Linked DNA regions of Homo sapiens. The protein of the gene in region 4 purifies or fractionates together with the protein of the main gene of each other region. This does not show direct contact. Each region holds a gene or a part of one and is shown on either strand. Other genes may lie near its edges.

Region 1 (3,500 bases), on a different chromosome or scaffold from region 4:
AGGGTTTCACCATGTTGACTAGGCTGGTCGTGAACTCTGGGCTCAAGCAGTCCACCCACCTTGCCCTCCCAGAGTGCTGGGATTACAGGCATGAGCCACTGCGCCCAGCCTGACAATGGCATTTAAAAGATGTCATGGCTATGTAAAAAAATGTTTCCACTGTTGTACGTACACATCTGCACATGCAAGAAAATTTCTCAAATCTTTCTTCCTTTTCTTTTCTCTTCTCTTCTTTCTCTTCTTTTCTTTTCTTTTCTTTTTTTGAGACAGGGTCTCACTCTGTTGCCCAGGCTGGAGTGCAGTGGCGCGATCTCGGCTCACCACAACCTCTGCCTCCCGGGTTCAAGTGATTTTCCTGCCTCAGCCTCCCTAGTAGCTGGGACTACAGGCGCCCGCCACCGCACCCGGCTAATTTTTGTATTTTTAGTAGGACGAGGTTTCACCATGTTGGCCAGGCTTGGTCTTGAGCTCCTGACCTCAGGTGATCTGCCTGCCTCGGCCTCCCAAAGTGCTGGGATTACAGGTGTGAGCCACTGCATCTGGTCAAATTTCTCAAATATTTCTATTGTGATAAAATGTATGTAACACAGGCTGGGCGCGGTGGCTCACGCCTATAATCCCAGCACTTTGGGAGACCGAGGTAGGTGGATCACGAGGTCAGGAGATCAAGACCATCCTGGCCAACATGGTGAAACCCCGTCTCTACTAAAAATACAACTAATTAGCTGGTCATGGTGGCGTGTTCCTGTAATCCCAGCTACTCAGGAGGCTGAGGCAGGAGAATTGAACCAGGGAGGCAGAGGTTGCAGTGAGCTGAGATCACGCCACTGCACTCCACCCTGGCGACAGAGCAAGACTCTGTCTCAAAAAAAAAAAAAAAAAAAAAAGTAACAAAGCGTACCATTTTAACCAGTTTTTAAAATTAAAAAAAAATTTTTTTTTTTTTAGAGATGGGGGGGGTCTCACTTTGTCACGGAGGCTGGAGTGCAGTGGTGCAATCCTAGCTCATTGCAGCCTCGAACTCCTGGAGTCCAGTGATCCTCCTGCTTAGTGTCCTGAGTAGCTGGGATTACAAGGCATGTGCTATTGTGCCTGGCTAATTTTTTTTTTTTTAATTTTTTGTAGAGCTGGGGTCTCACTATGCTGCCCCGGGCTGGTCTCGAACTCCTGGCCTCAAGCAATCCTCCTGCCTTGGCCTCCCAAAGTGCTGGGATTACAGGCGTGAGCTACTGCGCCTGGCCCATTTTAACCATTTTTAAGTGTACAGGTCAGTGGCATTAAGTGCATTCACATTGCTGTGTAGCCATCACCACCGTCTGTCTCCAGAACTCTTTGCTCATCCCAACTGAAACTCTCTACCCATTTAACAATCACTCCCATCCCCACAGTCCCTGGTAACCACCATTCTACCTCATCTCTGTAAATTTGACTATTCTAGGCATCTCACATAAATGATAAATGGAGGCATACAATATTTGTCTTCTTTGACTTATTTTACTGAGCATATGTTGAACGTTCCTCCATACTGTAGTATATGTCAGTACTGCATTCCTTTTTGTTGCTGAGTAATATTCGTGTGTGTGTGTGTGTGTGTGTGTGTGTGTCTAGACCACATTCCGTGTATTCATCTATTCGTAATGGACACTTGGGTTGTTTCCATCTGTTGCCATTGTGAATAGTGCTGCAGTGAACATTGGTATACAAGTATCTGTTTGAATCCTACTTTCAGTTCTTTTGGGTATATACCCAGGAAGTAGAATCTCTGGATCATACGGTCATTCTATTTTTACTTTTTTGAGGACTACCAAACGGTTTTCTGTAGCAACTGCACCATTTTATATTCCCACCAGCAATGCACAAGGATTCCAATTTCTCCACATCCTTGCCAACATTTGTTATTATTTATTTATTTATTGAGATGAAGTCTCGCCCTGTCGCCAGGCTGGAGTGCAGTGGCGCGATCTCGGCTCGCTGGAACCTCTGCCTCCCGGGTTCAAGTGATTTTCCTGCCTCAGCCTCCCGAATAGCTGGGACTACAGGTGCCTGCCACCATGCCCAGTTAATTTTTTTAATATTTTTAGTAGAGACAGGGTTTCACCGTGTTAGCCAGGACGGTCTCCATCTCTTGACCTCGTGATCTGCCCGCCTTGGCCTCCCAAAGTGCTGGGACTACAGGCATGAGCCACCGCGCCCGGCCTAGGGTTTTTTAATATATTCTAGATATTAATCCCTTATCAGATATGTGATTTGCAAATATTTTCTCCTATTCTGTGGGTTGTCTTTTCACCCTCTTGATCATGCTCTTTGATGTACAAAAATTTTAGTTTTAGTGAAGTACAATTTATCTTTTTTTTTTTTTTGTCTGTGCTTTTGGTGCTATATCCAAGAAATCTTTACTAAATCCAGTGTCATGAACATTTTTTCCCTAGATTTTCTTCTAAGAGTTTTAAAGGGTTTTTTTGTTGGTTTGTTTATTGTTTTTTGAGGCAGGGTCTCATTTTATTGCCTAGGCCGGAGTGCAGTGGCGTGAACACGGCTCACTGCAGCCTTGACCTCTCCAGCTCAAGTGATCCTCCTGCCTCAGCCCCACAAGTAGCTGGGACTACAGGCATGCGCAGTCAGGCCCAGCTAATTTTTGTATTTTTTTGTAGAGACAGGTTTTCACCGTGTTGCCTGGGCTAGTCTTGAACTTCTGCGCTCTGGTGATCCACCTGCCTCAGCCTCCCAAAGTGTTTCAGATTACAGGTGTGAGCCACTGCAACCGGCCAGGTTTGAGCTCTTAAGTTTAGATCTCTGATCTTTATATACTTATTATTATTTTTTTTTATAGAGATGGAGTCTTGCTGTGTTGCCCAGGCTGGTCTTGAACTCCTTGGCTCAAGCAAACCTCCCATGATGGCCTCCCAAGGTGCTGGGACTACAGGTATGAGCTACTGCACCTGGCCTCTTTACTTTTCAAATTAAACTTTTTATTTTGACATAATTATAAATTCACATGCCGTTGCAGGAAATAATACAGAGATCCTAGGTGCCCTTGGGTTTTGTTTTTTTATTTAGCATTTAGTCCATTTACATTTAATGAAATATGATACATTTGGGTTTAATCTGCTATCTTACTCTATATATTCAAATTGCCTATTCTCTGTTCATTTTTCTCTCTAGTCTTCTTTTAGGTTAATTTTTATTATCCTATTTTTCCTCTTCTATTAGCTTGAAAGTTATATGCTCTTTTCTCAGTTTTAAGTGGTCACCCTAGAATTTAAAGCAGGCATTCATGTTGTACCAAAGACTAATGATAATGTGTACTTTACCTTCTTCCTGGACAGTGCAAGGATCCTAACACACTTTAACTCCATTTATTGTTGTCATTTGTTTTAATTATTTCTGTTTTAAATCACACAACCCATTGTTTTGTGCAGTCAGATATTTAGATTTTCACCCTTATAGTCACTGTATTTGTTGTTCTTCGTTCCTTCTGGAATCTGACTTTACATCTGGAT
Region 2 (3,500 bases), on a different chromosome or scaffold from region 4:
AATGAAGTCTCCTATGTCTACTTCTTTCTACACAGACACAGCAACAATCTGATTTCTCTATCTTTTCCCCACCTTTCCCCCTTTTCTATTCCACAAAACCGCCATCGTCATCATGGCCCGTTCTCAATGAGCTGTTGGGTACACCTCCCAGACGGGGTGGTGGCCGGGCAGAGGAGCTCCTCACTTCCCAGAAGGGGCGGCCGGGCAGAGGCGCCTCCGACCTCCCGGACGGGGCGGCGGCCGGGCGGAGGCGCCCCCCACCTCCCTCCTGGACGGGGCGGCTGGCTGGGCGGGGGCTGAACCCCCACCTCCCGGACGGGGCGGCTGGCCGGGCAGGGGCTGACCCCCCACCTCCCTCCCGGACGGGGCGGCTGCCGGGCGGGGGCTGACCCCCCACCTCCCTCCCGGATGGGGCGGCTGGCCGGGCGGGGGCTGACCTCCCACCTCCCTCCCGGACGGGGCGGCTGCCGGGCGGAGGGGCTCCTCACTTCTCAGACGGGGCTGCCGGGCAGAGACGCTCCTCACCTCCCAGACGGGGTCGCGGCTGGACAGAGGCGCTCCCCACATCTCAGACGATGGGTGGCCGGGCAGAGACGCTCCTCACTTCCCAGACGGGGTGGCGGCCGGGCAGAGGCTGCAATCTCGTCACTTTGGGAGGCCAAGGCAGGCGGCTGGGAGGTGGAGGTTGTAGCTAGCCGAGATCATGCCACTGCACTCCAGCCTGGGCAACATTGAGCCCTGAGTGAATGAGACTCCGTCTGCAATCCCGGCACCTCGGGAGGCCGAGGCTGGCGGATCACTCACGGTTAGGAGCTGGAGACCAGCCCGGCCAACACAGCGAAACCCCGTCTCCACCAAAAAAATACGAAAACCAGTCAGGCGTGGCGGCGTGCGCCTGCAATAGCAGGCACTCGGCAGGCTGAGGCAGGAGAATCAGGCAGGGAGGTTGCAGTGAGCCAAGATGGCAGCAGTACAGTCCAGCTTTGGCTCGGCATCAGAGGGAGACCGTGGAAAGAGAGGGCGAGGGAGACCGTGGGGAGAGGGAGAGGGAGACTGTGGGGAGAGGGAGAGGGAGAGGGAGAGCCTCCAACTCTCCTCTTGCTCAGGATCCGTTTGGGGACTTGCTCTGTGTGTTCATTCCTTTGGTATTCATTTCTTCATGTGGATCCAGATTTCCAACTCGTATCATTTTTCCTTTGGCTTGAAGGACATCCTTTTACATTTTTGTTGTGCATGTTTGATGGTGATAAATTCTTTTAGCTTTTGTATGTCTGTGTTCATTTTTGGTTTTTGAAAGATATTTTCACTGAGTAAAGAATTTAAGATTGATAATTTTTTTTTTTTTGTTACTGTAAAGATGTTGCTTCAGTGTTTTCAAGCATGTACATTGTTTCTCACAAGAAGTCTGCTGTTACCCTTACCTTTGTTCCTCTGCGTATTAGGTCTTTTCTCTCTGGCTGCTTATGAGAGTCCTCTCTCACTGGCATAAGCAATGTGATTGTGATTTGCTTTGGTGTAGTTTCTTCAGCTTTCTTATGTTTGGGATTTATTGAGCTTCTTGAAGCTGTAGGTTGTTAGTTTTCATAAAATTTGGGAAATTTTGGCCTTTATATCTTCAAAAAGTTTTCCATTCTTCCTCTCTCTCTCCTTTCCTCTGGATTCCTATTACATGTACATTAGACTGCTTAAACTTATCTCACAGCTTGCTGGTGTTACAGTCTTTCATTTAAAAATCTTTTTTTCCTCACTGTGTTTCATTGTGGGTAGTTTCTATTGCTATGTCTTCAAAGTCACTACTCTTTTCTTCTGAAATATCTAATCTGTTAATCCCATACAGTATGTTTTTAAACTAGACATTGTAGTTTTCATCTCTGAAAGTTTGATTTGGATCTTTTTTATACTTTGCTTGCTCTGCTTAATATGTTGGGATGCAGTTTAATAAATGTTTTGTTTCTAATTATTTCATCTCTTCAGATAATAAGCTGGGGCAGATCTGGGGTGCACATTTTGTTTTTCATTTCTAGGGGATCACTGTCTTTTATTGCCTAATATCAAATGCTTCAAATTGTTGATCCATATATTTTTTCAGAGTTTTAGTTGTGTCAGATGGGTGGTAAATCTAATCCCTGTTCCTCTATCTTAATTGGAAGTGAAAGTTCTACTTACTCATTTATATTACTTCATTGTCTACCCCATTCAAGTAATCCACATAGAAAAACCTGCATTTATACACACATGCTTCAGTACTTCTGAGATTCATGAGGATAAGGATTGCATATGTTTGTGCTCATGATTATATCTTGAGCATATAATGGGTTTTCAATACATTTTGTTGATTAAATGAATATATACATGTATATGCGGTTATACAAGTGTTTGTATACACACATGCCTGATATATTAGGGTGATGCTTATAAGTAACCCCCAAATTTTCGTGACTTTACCTAATAGAAGTTCATTTTTATTCATTTAACACTCTGAAGCAGATGTTCATAGTTGGTAGGCAGTTCTCTGTGAAATAATTCAGAGATCTGTTTCTCTTCTGTTTGGGGCCTTTGTAATTTCTTAGGGTTTTATTGTTATTTGTATCTAACCAATGAGACAAAAGGGAAAGACAGCTTAGAGAAGGTACAGCTTCTTCTAAAAAACCTTGGCTTAGATATGATACACATCACTTTTGCTCACATTCTATTGGTGTGAACCTTTCATGCCAATACCTAGATGTATGGTGGGCTGGGTAATGTAATCCCTGGATGGACAACCACTTCCCAGCAACAAATCCATACTGTGTGTGTAGGGGGACCAATCATGTGGTCACTTATTTTCAGGTGCAGGGATGCCAGAGATTATGATGTAGTCATTTAGCTGTTTGGCCTTCCATAGGATATTTCTGAAGAGCAGCTTTTAGTGGAATTCTCAGGAGGAAATTGGGCTTTAGTGCATTCTTATTAAGTATAGATCCTTGCACTCTACTCCAGATCTGCTGAAATCAAATTATTGTGTTGAGGTTTGGGAATATGCATTTTCATCAAACTTGTTGATTCTTACATTCACTAAAAGGTGAAATCTGCTGTAAGAGGTTATTTTAAACTTTTATTTTTCTTAAAAGAAAATGAGCTGGGCGAAGTGGCTCACGCCTGTAGTCCCAGCACTTTGGGAGGCCGAGGCGGGCAGATCACCAGGTTAGGAGATCGAGACCATCCTGGCTAACACGGTGAAACCGCTTCTCTACTAAAAATACAAAAAATTAGCCAGGTGTGGTGGCAGACGCCTGTAGTCCCAGCTGCTTGGGAGGCTGAGGCAGGAGACTGGCGTGAACCCAGGAGGTGGAGCTTGCAGTGAGCTGAGATTGCGCCACTGCACTCCAGCCTAGGCAACAGAGGGAGACTCCGTCTCAAAAAAAAAAAAAAAAAAAAAAAGAAAAAAGAGAAAAAGAGAAAAAGAAAAAGAAAATGAAATGACTTAGAAAATAAAGCCCAGTAGGATAGCTTGCAAAGAG
Region 3 (3,500 bases), on a different chromosome or scaffold from region 4:
ATAGTAACAAAATCGTAAAAATTGTTATCTGGTTTCATATATTACCTAATTTGCCTTACTATATGAACAGTGAACAGTTGTAATCAGTTCTTTCTTTTTGTTTTAATTTTGTAAAGATGGGGTCTCGTTATGTTGCCCAAGCTGGTCTTGAACCCCTGGGCTCAAGCAATCCTCCTGCCTCAGCCTCCAAAACTGCTGGGATTGTAGACGTGAGTGATTGCACCTGGCTAATCCGTTTTTAAAATTACGAAAACTTCAAACTGCATTGTTAGATTTCTCTCAACTTGTTAAATTTTAATAGTTTCTTCACTTTTTATTAGTTGCTGATATTACCAGGAATTGGTTAAAGGTAAAGATATAGCACTCCATAATACTGAATATATTTAGGATGCTCATAAGGAATTGACTGATATGTTTAATCTAAGTAACTTTTTAGTAGGCTCACTCTGAAAAAAAATGATGTTTTATTTGCTAGAAAACTGTAGTATATGGCACACAAATATATTGAATCTGAATTTTTTACAAAGAGAGACAGGTCATTTAGTACATTATTCCAATCAATAAAAAGTTATTCTAGAAACTCTCTATATACTTGTAGTGATGGGTAAATACAGTATTTCCCATGACAACTTAACAGCACTGCTGATAGAAAGCCTGTCCTTATGTTAAGCTAAATTCTACATTTTTCTAACTTTCACTCATTAATTCTAAGCTGGCATCCTGAAGTAAACATATAAGCCTGATCATCTTTCTGTGTAATAATATTTGAAAAACTTCAAGATTCTTCCAAAATAACCAAGGCTTTGCTTTTCAGAACATGTTTTGTAGGCTCCTCCTAATGCAAGATACTTACATGCTTCTAGATTTAGTCAAGTTTTTCAATACATGTTTTAAAATGTGTTGCCCAGAACTGTCACCATTTTTTCTCTATTTGATGCTGTACTTCTATTACTTTGGCTTAAAATTACATTGGCTTTTTAAAGGCTCATACTATTGATTCTTATTGAACTTAACAGTTATTGAACTTTCCTCATCTTTTATCAACAAATAATCGAGTGTTTTTTTTTAGTATTTTATATTTATACAAATTATTTTTGATCCTTTGTTGAACTTCATATTTTTTGACCATATATTAGAAAATTTCAGATTTTATTAAAGTCAAATTCTGTCTTCTCTAATAGATAACCTGTTTTAAGACTGACTCTGTTTATTTCTGACATCTGGAGACAGGCACTATACCAAAGGTTCTCCTTTTTCCTTAGGGTTTTAGGGATTCCAAGGAGCGGCTGGTATAGGAGATGAGGAGTGGAGATAATAAGCCAAGTAGACAGAGTGCTAGCCTTCCTAATCAGATTCAAACAGAGCACGCATTTGTATTTTATTTTACACATTAAACTTCTGAGAGTTAATTTGAAAAAACAGTGCAGGGGCTTAAAATTAGTTTTTGAAAATCACTGAACTGTTTATAATCTCCTTTAGGCCTTCCAGTTCCACAAACATACCTTAACTGTAGTGGTTTAAAAATATACAGAAAGAAAGAGAGATTTGAAGATAAAACAATTAAGAAAAAATATACAAAGATGTTTTGAACAACATACCAATTAGCTTTTCCTCCGTTGGTTATCCACATCTTCTGACCATTAATAATATACTCATCTCCTTTCTTTTCTGCTTTGGTCTTTATACCAGCTACATCAGAGCCTGCTCCAGGTTCTGTTACACAATAAGCCTTGAATATATAAAAACAAGAGAAATGAAATTAAATGTTAGTGATTAAATTTTGACTGTTTGGAAACAGGATTGTTTTATTTTTTAAGCTGTATTTTAAATATTTTTAAATATCTAAAATTAAAATGTTCTTACAAAATCAAAGAAACCACTCAAATGTAAAAACTTTTCTGTTTTGTTTGTAAGAGACAGGGTCTCACTCTCTTGCCCAGGCTGGAATGCAGAGGCTCAATGCAGTCTTGGCTTCCTGGACTCAGGAAATCCTCCCGCCTCAGCCTCCCGTGTATAATAGCTGAGACTGCAAGCACACATCACCATGCCCAGCTAATTTTAAATTTTTTGTAGACATGGCATCTCACTGTGTTGCCTAGGCTGGTCTCAACCTCCTGGGCTCAGGCAATCCTCTGCCTCAGCCTCCCAAAGTGCTGGGACTACAGGTATGAGCCACAGTGCCTGGCCTAAAAACACTTAATATATAATTCAAATTAGGCATAGGTATATCAACAAATCATATATTTAATAAAAAGTGAAAATGTTAGATAGCTTTAAACAAGTTCATTAAATTCAATTTCACATGTATTCATTCATGCAAACATGTATTGAATATCTACTATGTACCACGATGTAAATTAGGATATGGGGAAACCAGAGGTAAAAGACATTCAGTCCTAGAGATTTTCACAATGTAACAGTGAAGATAAATAACTATACTGCAACTCTATGTGTGAAAGTCAGACAAGGGGCTTGAGAAACTAGTTTCCCAGGGCAGAGGATGTTTAAATTAAGTCTCAAAAAGGAAAATGGCTTCTTTGCGAGGAGGGAAAAAGAGGAAGAATATGCATTCCAGGTACAAGTAATGGCATATGCTATGACACTAAGATAAGAAACAGAGTTACCCAGTGTTTCTAATGCTGAAAGTACCAGAGTTCCACAGTATGTAAATTCTGTGCATGTAAGGGAATGGTAAGACATGAGTCTGGAAAGAAAGGAAGGAAATGGTCGACGAGAATCTTTTATATCACATTACAAATTTAAAATTTTATCTGGTAGAAACAGGGGAGCCTCTTAGAGCTCTTAAACAGAGGAGTGACAAGACACAAGCAGTAATGGATAAAAGGGGGTGGTAGAAGGCAAGTGTTAGTGCAAGTTAATTCAAGAGTGGCCGGTACTGTGGATACTAAAGAAACAAGTTACTTGCCCTTAAGGTACTTACAGTCCAAAGAAGAAAGAAACTGGGCCGAGCATGGTGGCCCCCCACCTGTAATCCTAGCATTTTGTGAGGCTGAGATGGGAGGATCGCTTGAGACCAGGAGTTCAAGACCAGCCTGGTCAACATGCCGAGAACCCATGTCAATTTATTTTTTAAAAATATACAACAAAAAAGAAAGAAACTATATACATTTTAATTCAAAGTAGTAAGCATATATAGGGGCACTAGAAATGATTACTTAGGGCCGGGCGTGGTGGCTGAGGCTTCAGGTTTGTAATCCCAGCACTTTGGGAGGCCGAGGCAGGTGGGTCACCTGAGGTTAGGAGTTCGAGACCAGCCTGGCCAACATGGTGAAACCCTGTCTCTACTAAAAATACAAAAACTTAGCCAGGCTTGGTGGCGGGCGCCTGTAATCCCAGCTACTTGGGAGGCTGAGGAAGAATTGCTTGAACCTGGGAGGTGGAGGTTGCAGTGAGCCGAGATGGTGCCACTGCACTCCAGCCTAGGCAACAGAGCGAGACTCCATTTCAGAAAAAAAAAATAATAACAATACTTGGCTGGG
Region 4 (3,500 bases):
TTAGAGCATGAAACCCACAAAGAAAAGTTATAAAAACATACAGTATCCCTTACCTGGGTATTCTGGAAGTAATGCTTCCAGAGAGGCCTAATTCTATCTTGACCACCAACATCCCATACTGTGAAACAAATGTTCTTATATTCTACTGTTTCCACATTAAAACCTACAAAGAAAAACAAAAATGACCGCTGTGCAGCGTCATTAAGAAAATAAAACCTTTTATTGTGGAATTTTCTTAGAATAGTGTTTTTAAAGTACTTCTTTTTATTTTTAAAAAATATATTTAAGCCTAAACATCAACAGAGACAAGGCCTCATTATGTTATGCAGGCTGGTCTTGAACTCCTGGGCTCAAGCAATCCACCCGCCTCGGCCTCCCAAAGTGCTGGGATTACAGGCATGAGCCACCACACCCGGCCTGTTTTAAAAGTACTTCTAAGATAATCAACATGCTTAACAAAAAGACAATCTCAAAACTAGACTGTATATATTTCACTTTACAACATATCATGATATAAAGTCATCTGTAAACTTTCTTACCAATGGTAGGAATGGTGGTGACTATCTCCCCTAACTTCAGTTTATACAGAATGGTTGTCTTGCCAGCAGCATCCAATCCAACTAGAAGAAGACATTATAGATTTAAAATCCAGACCAAAAGCACACTCCAAGAAATAATTTTACAATAAATTTATAGTTCAAAACTAGAAGTTGACTGTTCAAGACAACTTCTAAATGAGTTAGAAATGAAATGACCTTATTTCTGATTCCCAAAGGCAACACTTCCTACAGAAAGCCTTTCCATTCTGCTTTCTAGACCAAGAGAGACAGCATGTACTAGTAAAAGGTAACAAGTATGTAGCTGACTTAGGCTCTAATCTCTAGCTTTGCGACAAACTAGTTGAGTGACTTTAGGACACTGAGACCAGAGAAATTAGCCATAAATAAAGGGACTGGATCAGATCATCTAAGATCTCTTCCAATTAAATTCTATGAACTACCAGCATTTTTTGGGGGGTGGAGGGGCAGGGGAGCGGGGGGACGTATTCTCGCTCTGTTGTCCAGGCGGGAGTGAAGTGGCATGATCTCAGCTCACTGTAACCTCCACCTCCCGGGTTCGAGCAATTCTCCTGCCTCAGCCTCCCAAGTAGCTGGGACTACAGGCGCCCACCACCACGCCCGGCTAATTTTTGTATTTTTAGTAGAGACGGGGTTTCACCATGTTGGCCAGGCTGGTCTCAAACTCCTGGCCTCAAGTGATCTGCCAGCCTGGGCCTGCCAATGTGCTGGGATTACAAGCGTGAGCCACCGTGCCCAGCCATACTACCATTTTTAAAAACACAAATTAGAAGTTGATTCAGACAACATGTAAGTGAATAAAGAATTCTTAAGATTTGTAAAAATATTTTCTCTTATTTACAGAGTAAAATTTGGGTAACAGATTTTGATGCTAAGGGGTAAAAAATACACTGGTATAAGTATGTCCTAGTGGTATAACTATGTTCTAATGAACTTAATGTAACTATGTCCTAGTGACCTTATAATGATAATAAAGGAAGATGAAGCCAATTTTACCCCTGCTTAAATCCATTTCAACATTAAATGTGCCAAAATGAAAACCAAAGTCTGATTAACCTGTTATAAAAATGGCCCTATCACATTACCTAATGTAAACAACGAGTTAATGGGTGCAGCACACCAACATGGCACATGTATACATATGTAACAAACCTGCACATTGTGCACATGTACCCTAGAACTTAAAGTATAATAATAAAAGACCCTATCACATTCATCTACAATATAAGTAATATCTAAATTCTTTTTTTTTTTTTTTGAGACAGAGTATCACTCTGTCACCCAGGCTGAAGTGCAATGGTGCAATATCAGCTCACTGCAACCTCCATCTCCCAGGTTCAAGCGATTCTCCTACCTCAGCTTCCGGAGTAACTGGGATTACAGGTGCGTGCCACCACACCCCAGCTAATTTGTATTTTTAGTAGAGACGGGGTTTCACCATGTTGGCCAGGCTGGTCTTGAACTCCTGACCTCGGGTGATCTGCCCGCCTCAGCCTCTCAAAGTGCTGTGATTACAGATGTGAACCACTGTGTCCGGCCTAAATTCTTAAAATGATTCAGTTGAGGCAGAAGTACAAGTAGGGAGGAATGTGTTTGCTTGTGAAAAAAAATCCACACTAGAACAAGAGGCTATACCTCCTTGTAGGGTGACAGTGAAGAACAAATTAAATGCTTGTAAGTATGAATCTCTCAAAACCTGAATATTCTGCAGTGTTTGCTAAAGCCCTCATAAATGAAAGATCAACATCTAATAACCTCATTGAATCTATCATTGTTCTTAGGATATCATATCTGGCCGCCTGGGTTTATCTTATCACAGATTTTTGTATCGATTCAATCAAGTATTGATTTAAGCAAGGACACTTTCTTAATATTTAAATCAAAGCATGACTTAGCACATAAAAGCAATGCTAGTAAGTTAAAAAAGAGCTGAAATTATCTCACTTATCTAATTTACATTCCTATGCAAGTAAGTCTATCTTTTATCAGTTAGTCCAAAACAGAAGCGAAGGCTACAGGCAATTCTGATTCCTTCTACCCTCTTAACAACCCTTTCTACTCTGTACCCTACCAAGAATAACTTTAAGTTCTTTTTGGAGACTCAAGCCTTTTATTCCTTTGTCCTGTAAAACCCTGTTCCCCACTTCGTACTCGGATACAGGTTTATTCCTTCCCAACTACTAGTCAGTGTGATCAGCCCACATCAAGCCCTCATTCATGAGCATAATAATAAAAACCAACTGTTATACAAGTGTTTTATTTTTTGAGCATGGAACATTATCAAAAAAATCAGAAAACATAATTCTAAAAAATACATAAAAAGGAGCTACATTAAAGTTTGGCATCTTTAGTAACAAGATATAAAACAAAGGGGGGTGGCAAAAAACAACTGGATCTTTAAATGGTCCAACAAAGCTGTCTCTTGAAAGCATCAGATTTTTAAGTTAACCAAAATTAACCTTTAAGTTCAAATATGATTAAGCCAAGTCAGAATTGAAACTGAGACGCTGATTAAGAAACACACACACACACGCACACACACAAAACTATGGTACCTGCCAGTTATCACCGGAGGTCCAACTGGACCTCAGATTGTCATTTAAAAACAAGGTAAGGCCTGGCGCTGTGGCTCATGCCTGTAATCACAGTACTTTGGGAGGCTGAGGTGGGCGAATCACCTGAGGCCAGGAGTTTGAGACCAGCCTGGCCAACATGGTAAAATCCCGTCTCTACTAAAAATACAGAAACTAGCTGGATGTGGTGGCATATGCCTATAATCCCAGATACTCTGGAGGCTGAGGCAGGAGACTCGCTTGAACCCAGGAGGCGGATGTTGCAGTGAGCCGAGATCGTGCCATTGCACTACAGCCTGGACAACAAGAGCGGAACTCAGTCTCAAAAAAAAAAAAAAAAAAAAAAAGT
Region 5 (3,500 bases), on a different chromosome or scaffold from region 4:
GAAGACTGATAACCCAAGACAGAGTTCCAGGTTCACATTATTCAGATGCAGGGCAGTTAACAAGGCCAAGAATTAGATGGAAAGAAACCAGGCCGAGGTCTAGGTACAGGTATACAAGGTGGGAACCAGGTTAGGAGAAGAAAAGATAGGCCCTTAAATTGAACTGGGACCCCAGTCAGAGGAAGTTCATAGCCATGTGGTCAAATGTCATCTCTCCCAGGCTGATGTTCCAAATACCCACTCCATGAAGGACAGGATTGTCCTATGAATGTGACATGATACTCAGCAGGCCAATGGACGAGAGAAGCCAAGCAGATGGCTACCAGCTCTGAACATTCACATTGCAATTAGCGTCTACAGCTCCTCACAGAAATATCACCAAGCCTGCCCCATCTGAATCATTTTATCAAGCAATTTGAAAAAGAAAACTTGAAATAATCAGTATAATTCCAATTTTGTTAATGTAATAATGCAAGAATGGGTCCTAACATATTAGTGATTATCCCTGATTAGTGGGGTTAAAGTTAATTTCAGTTTAGTTGTGAGCTACAGTGTTTTTCCTACCATAAATGTGCATTATTTCTGTGAGCAGGAAAAAAAATGGTATGCTTTCAAACTTGCTATATTCGTAGGTTTATGTGAACATGTTTATATAATATATAAAAATCTCTCCTTTAAATAGCAATCTATTTAAGAATAAGGGATTCTCTGGATAGGAAAGGCAGTACAGATAACCCAGGAGATTTCGTCTAAGCAGTAGTTCCTACAGTTCAGAACTCTTACAATTACCCAAAGAGCCTGTTAAAAATAAAGTCTCTCCAGAGATTCTGATTCAGCAGGACTAAGTGGTGCCCACCACTTGATTTTTTTTTTTTTTTTTTTTTTTTTTTTGAGACGGAGTCTCGCTTTGTCACCTAAGCTGGAATGCAGTGGCACGGTCTCGGCTCACTGCAAACTCCGCCTCCCTGGTTCAAGCGATTCTCCTGCCTCAGCCTCCCGAATAGCTGGGAATACAGGTATGCGCCACCATGCCCAGCTAATTTTTTCTTTTTTTGTATTTTTAGTAGATGGGGTTTCACCGTGGTAGCCAGCATGGTCTTGATCTCCTGATCTCACGATCCACCCGCCTCGGCCTCCCAAAGTGCTGGGATTACAGGCATGAGCCACCTTGCCCGGCCCCACTTGAATTTTTTAATATTCCCCCTAACCAGGTGACTCTGACAGATCGTATGAGACTCAAACTTCGAGAACACCTGAACTAGTTTATAGTCAATTATGCTGACAAAGATGACCATTTCTGTGTCATTTACATCTCTTTCACACCAGTTTAACTGCCACAGTGCTGAAAAATCATTCCTAGATACAATGATTTCAAATCTTTGGAAATATCACATAAAATAAAAACAAAAACATATAAACACGGGATGGGGAACAAATAAAAAGCGTTAGGTACTAATAGTGAATTGGAGAGAATCTTACAAGGATTATTTTAAATTATGAAATATTCTGAACAAACAATAGAGTGTAGAAAATACTGGAAGACATCCAGATTTAGGAAGTATCTAACAAAAGTAACATGATTTGGTCTTTTTAAAACTTACAGCAATTCCCGCACAAGATTCTCTGTATTGTTAATAATCTTGGCAAAATCTGATGACCTGTGACTCATTTCTGTGAAAGGAAAGATAAACAACAATAACAAATATTCCAGCTCAAAACCAAATGAACAGAAATACCTACGAAATTTGCAAGTAAACAACAATACAGGGAAATTTCAGTTATTCTGCATTCAAATTGTGGGCCAAGGCTCACTTAGTTTAGGGGACCATACAAACTGATTTTCAAATTGCAAACATTTTAGCTTTATAGTCATGGCAGAAGGATTTTTCAAGTGGTACATTCACTGAGCAAGTTATTTATTAATTCATCACTCCGTGATGCTCTCTGTGATTCTTCTTACCATCTCTTTCTCACAAACAGGAATCCATGTGCAACAGTTGCCCTTTAGGTCTGGAGCACAAAATTCCATGCTGTGATCTCACTTCACAGAAATCTAAGTATATGTCCCAAACCAACAGGAGCAAAATTTAACAGAAATAAGCAATATAGTTAACCCTATGGTCTCTTAATACCATGCAGTCTTCAGAACCGCCAAAAATAAAAGAAAATAAGTTTTAGAATGCAGAGGTCCTCTTCCCAAAAAATATAGGGGAAACTTAATAAGATTATCAATGTGCGAGGTCTTCATAAAAGGCTTATGTACTTTTAAACTTTAATGAGGTTGTATTTAAGTATAATAAAAACTGTAAATTGAATGTAAAGCAATATTATAAATGTTTGGAGGCACTGTTATGCAAATATACAGTATCTTCTGATCCTAAATCCTATGATTAGCAAAAACCAATTATGACAGGGTAAGCTGAGATGTCAGAACCTCTCACCAGCATTTATGCTATTTTCAAAATGGTTTCTATCAGACATGCAACCCAAGCTATTAAAGTTTAAAAATGTATCTATAAAGGCCTATAGGAAGACCCTATAGGCCCTGTAATTCTATATTTGATGCATTTAAATTAGTTCCCTTTGGGCCAGGGCTCAGTGGCTCAAGCCTGTAATCCCAAAACTTTGGGAGGCCAATGTGGGAGGATGGCTTCAGGCCACGAGTTTCAGATCAGCCTGGGCAACAAAGTGAGATCCCATCTCATGGGATCTTTAAAAAATGTTTTAAACATTTAAAAAAAATTAGCCAGGTGTGGTGATGTGTACCTATAGTCCTAGCTACTCAGGATGCTGAGGCAGGAGGGTCACTTGAGCCCAGGAGTTGGAGGCTGCAGTGAACTATGATCACGCCACTGTACTCCAGCCTGGGTGACAGAGCAGGACCCTGCCTCTAAAAAAAAAAAAAAAAAAAAAAGCTTCCTTTGAAACATGGACATTCACAGAATTCAAAAGTAAATCTTACCAAGAACACTAATGCCAACTCCTTTGTAGTCTAATAATTCCTTTTGTATCTCTAACAACACCTAGAAAAAAATAAAGGAAAATAGGGTTATTTAAATATGTTCTGCACTGCTTTCCCTCTGAACATACAAACCTGACGAGGGGACAAGGAAGGGTCTACAGTGAGGTCCCCAGGCTTCCATCCCCACCCACAGCCAGTCTCCTTCCTTCCCATGTCCACAAAGCCAGCGATTATGCAACTTACACACAAGGTAAGCATGAAATTAGGCAATGTGACTGATGTTGATACACTTTTTCCAAAGGCCCGAATTTACCGATTCCCTAGAAAATGTCCCCTTCACAAATCTCATTCACCACTCTCCTAAAGCTAAAGTAAAGAATGCATAAAGTTCTGGGTTAAAGGGACAACGATAAAAAAATTATGCCCAGATTATACAGGTAACTCAATTTTCCGATCTCTTTTGGTCTAAGGTGCTAGACTGGGAAGCGTGGGGTGGGCAGGAAGAAGGAAGAGCCTGCTGTGAATAAGATTCGTCCCA
Region 6 (3,500 bases), on a different chromosome or scaffold from region 4:
TAGGTAGATTCACAGAGAAAGTAGAGGTTACTGGGGGCTGGAGGAGGGGAGAATGGGAAGTTATTATTTATCTGTACAGTTTCTATTTGGAATGATGGAGAAAGTCGGGAAAAAGTGGGCACAACAATGTGAATGTACTTAATGTCATTGATTTGCATACTTAAAAACGGTTAAAATGATATATTTTATGTTATGCACATTTCACCACAGTAAAAAGATTTTTTTAAATTAAGTCAATGGCCAACACCTTGGAGAGAATAAATGAAATAGGGAGTTTTGGGATAGTTTCTATCAGTTTGCCAGTGAGATTTATGGTTTACACTTGGTCTCTGTGAAAACTCTCGGGGGGCTTTACTGTTACGTAGCAGGAATATGATTATGTGACCAAAAAAACAAAAATCCCTAGCTGAGATTCCATTTTGGAGTCTCTGATTCTGAGGTAGTCTGTTGCATGTGCCATGGACTGAATTGTGTTTCCCGCAGAATTAATGTGTTAAAGCTCTAATCTCTATGTCTTTAGGAGGTAGTTAAGGTTAAATTAGGTAATTAAGGGTGGGGCTCTAATTTGATAGGACCATGGCCTTGTAAAAAGGCCCTCTTTCACTGTCATGTAAGGACACAGCAAGAAAGCCGCCTTCTGTAAGCCGGGAGAGCCCTCACCAGAAATGGACCATGATGGCACCTTGATCTCGGACTTCCAGACTGCAAAATTATGAGACAATACATTTCTCTTGTTTAAGCCATGCAGACTGTGATATTTTGTAATGGCAGCCTGAGCAGAGTATGACAACACTGGTGATTCCTAATCTGTAAGAGAAAGATACATCCTGCCTGGCCCTCACCTAGGGAGGACCAGAGAAGCCTGCACCTGGCTTCTCTAGACTCCTTGCTTTGAGACAGCCATTGGCTGTGATATATATCCTTACTTTCATATTATGGTTATTTTTTACCCTTTTCCTATAATAAACTGCAGATCTGTAAGCATTGTCACTTTGGGTCCTGAGTCTTTCTTAGAACCAAACTGTTTAACTGACACTATTAGTGTAACTATAAGGAAAAGAAACAGTATTAATTTCTGTCGTTCTAAGGAGAAATAATTAAGATTGATGGGTAAAAGAACCATCTTAACAGAAGGCAGATTTACTTTGTCTTGCAAGGTATTAAGCAAGTCTCTAGGTATGTTCACTACACACTGGAGCAGAAGCTAGATGCCATTCTGCGGTGAGGAGACTGCTGCATTGGGTATACGACCTCAAGAGCTTACGATTTTTCCAATCTGGAAAAAACTTTTTCTTTTTTTCTTGTTTTTTTTTTTTTTTTTGAGATGGAGTCTCGCTCTGTCGCCCAGGCTGGAGTGCAGTGGCCCGATCTCGGCTCACTGCAAGCTCTGCCTCCCGGGTTCACACCATTCTCCTGCCTCAGCCTACCGAGTAGCTGGGACTACAGGAGCCCGCCACCATGCCCGGCTAATTTTTTATGTTTTTTTAGTAGAGACGGGGTTTCACCATGTTAGCCAGGATGGTCTCGATCTCCTGACCTCATGATCCACCTGCCTCGGCCTCCCAAAGTGCTTGGATTACAGGCGTGAGCCACCGCGCCCGGCTGGAAAAAACTTTTCAATAGGAATCATACCTGTGATGTCAGCTTCCCAGCAATCTGCATTCGTTCAATTTCTGCAGGAGACTTGATCAGCCGGAGGCGCTGTATCAGCTGCTGAACACCCCGAACCTTGTTCTTGCTCTTGGCTTTGGCCTCAGTCAGGGGCTGCATATAGTCAGAGTGAAGCTGTGCATGTGAGGGCCTCATCCAGTCATACCAAACCATGTTCGTCTCAGCTTAGAATGAGAAGCCGAAAAATAAATTTAAAACAAAACTACCAGCAACAAGAAATATCAACTGTCATAACGACTTGAACAAGAGTCAAAACTATAAAACCTGTAACGTGGAACTCTAAAGTGTTGAGACTTAAGACTCTCTCAGGACTGAAGCAATAAAGGTTTGATTATAAATCATTAGAAAGGTCATTCCCTGGAAATGGCAAGATATTCTAAGACTGAATATACAGCTTTTCTGCCCCTAAACTTCAGTGTTCTTTATAAAGGATGATACGGGACTAAAGCTTTAGTCAAGCTTTGATTTTCTCTCTTTCTCTCTCTCTTTATTTTTGAGATGGAGTCTTGCTCTGTTGCCCAGGCTGGAGTGCAGTGGCACAATCTCAGCTCACTGCAACCTCCGCCTCCCAGGTTCAAACGATTCTTCTGCCTCAGCCTCCCAAGTAGCTGGGACTACAGGTGCCCGCCACCATGCCCAGCTAATTTTTGTATTTTCAGTAGAGATGAGGTTTCACCATATTGGTCAGGCTGGTCTCGAACTCCTGACTTGTGATCCACCCGCCTCAGTCTCCCAAAGTGCTGAGATTACAGGCGTGAATCACCATGCCCGGCCTTCATTATTAAACAATTAGAACAACTGTTCTTCACCACCACTTACTGAGCTAGAGGCACTTGTTGAATAATTGCACACAGAAGGACAGAAAAACATACTCAGATCATGACTTTATGGGTAAAGTGTCCCATCCTTTCACATAATGATCTCAGTACTAGAGGAAAGGGTTCTCCTCCCATTCTGGAGCAATTATTCATTGCTATGGAAAAACTACAGTTGATATTTCCTCACTTCTCCCTTTGCATCTGCTATACATTCTCTTTGTAAACAATCACAGTTCAGCTTTCAACTTTAGAGACCTAAGGAAATGGTCTGTATTTGCCTAAGATATACGATATAAAGGCTCATTATAAAAATGATTTGCACTTAATATCAGATCTACATTTGTTCTTTTTTTCTAACAGTAGGCTACAAACAGTATTCCTAACAATCCAAGTGAGAAGGTCTGAATATTTTATATGACTAAAAAGTACTTTGGGGAAAGTAGAGGGGAAAAAATCCAGAAAACTTTGATTGGATATGCACTGATTCTATGATTCTATGTCCTATGTGATTCTATGTCCTACATATTTTCATTTTTAAAATAAAAATGGTTCTAAATATATACTACATGGGAAACACCTTCCTACTTACGATAGATGGAAATTTAATTGTCGTGTAATTTTTTTTTTTTTTGAGACGTAGTCTTGCTCTGTCACCCAGGCTGGAGTGCAGTGGCGCGATCTCGGCTCACTGCAACCTCCACCTCCCTGGTTCAAGCAATTCCCCTGCCTCAACCTCCCAAGTAGCTGGGATTACAGGCGCATGCCACCACGTCCAGCTAATTTTTTCGTATTTTTAGTAGAGACGGGGTTTCACCATGTTGTCCAGACTGGTCTCGAACTCCTGATCTCAGGCAATCCACCTCCCTTGGCCTCCCGAAGTGCTGGGATTACAGGCGTGAGCCACTGCACCCGGCCAATTGTTGTAATTTTTAAAAAGTAAAACAATCTCTACTACACGTTCAAAGTGTATGAAATCATAGCTCACTTTTTTAAAGGTTTTTAAACCTTTCA

What was found.
Region 1: the proteins of ARF4 (region 4) and LMAN2 purify together in Homo sapiens (affinity purification with mass spectrometry; one large-scale study listed by BioGRID and IntAct). This does not show direct contact.
Region 2: the proteins of ARF4 (region 4) and RAB3IP purify together in Homo sapiens (pull-down; one study listed by IntAct). This does not show direct contact.
Region 3: the proteins of ARF4 (region 4) and ACADM fractionate together in Homo sapiens (co-fractionation; one large-scale study listed by BioGRID). This does not show direct contact.
Region 5: the proteins of ARF4 (region 4) and PSAT1 fractionate together in Homo sapiens (co-fractionation; one large-scale study listed by BioGRID). This does not show direct contact.
Region 6: the proteins of ARF4 (region 4) and XPNPEP3 purify together in Homo sapiens (co-immunoprecipitation; one large-scale study listed by IntAct). This does not show direct contact.

Annotation. Positions count from the first base shown.
Region 1 is NC_000005.10:177,341,669-177,345,168, reverse strand, and holds part of LMAN2 (vesicular integral-membrane protein VIP36 precursor), read left to right. Parts: intron 1-3,500. UniProt on the Homo sapiens protein: Plays a role as an intracellular lectin in the early secretory pathway. Interacts with N-acetyl-D-galactosamine and high-mannose type glycans and may also bind to O-linked glycans.
Region 2 is NC_000012.12:69,759,360-69,762,859, forward strand, and holds part of RAB3IP (rab-3A-interacting protein isoform alpha 1), read left to right. Parts: intron 1-3,500. UniProt on the Homo sapiens protein: Guanine nucleotide exchange factor (GEF) which may activate RAB8A and RAB8B. Promotes the exchange of GDP to GTP, converting inactive GDP-bound Rab proteins into their active GTP-bound form.
Region 3 is NC_000001.11:75,738,209-75,741,708, reverse strand, and holds part of ACADM (medium-chain specific acyl-CoA dehydrogenase, mitochondrial isoform a precursor), read right to left. Parts: intron 1,730-3,500; coding exon 1,599-1,729; intron 1-1,598. UniProt on the Homo sapiens protein: Medium-chain specific acyl-CoA dehydrogenase is one of the acyl-CoA dehydrogenases that catalyze the first step of mitochondrial fatty acid beta-oxidation, an aerobic process breaking down fatty acids into acetyl-CoA and allowing the production of energy from fats.
Region 4 is NC_000003.12:57,583,845-57,587,344, forward strand, and holds part of ARF4 (ADP-ribosylation factor 4), read right to left. Parts: intron 621-3,500; coding exon 540-620; intron 164-539; coding exon 54-163; intron 1-53.
Region 5 is NC_000009.12:78,300,125-78,303,624, reverse strand, and holds part of PSAT1 (phosphoserine aminotransferase), read right to left. Parts: intron 3,024-3,500; coding exon 2,963-3,023; intron 1,672-2,962; coding exon 1,602-1,671; intron 1-1,601. UniProt on the Homo sapiens protein: Involved in L-serine biosynthesis via the phosphorylated pathway, a three-step pathway converting the glycolytic intermediate 3-phospho-D-glycerate into L-serine.
Region 6 is NC_000022.11:40,884,648-40,888,147, reverse strand, and holds part of XPNPEP3 (xaa-Pro aminopeptidase 3), read right to left. Parts: intron 1,836-3,500; coding exon 1,633-1,835; intron 1-1,632. UniProt on the Homo sapiens protein: Catalyzes the removal of a penultimate prolyl residue from the N-termini of peptides, such as Leu-Pro-Ala. Also shows low activity towards peptides with Ala or Ser at the P1 position.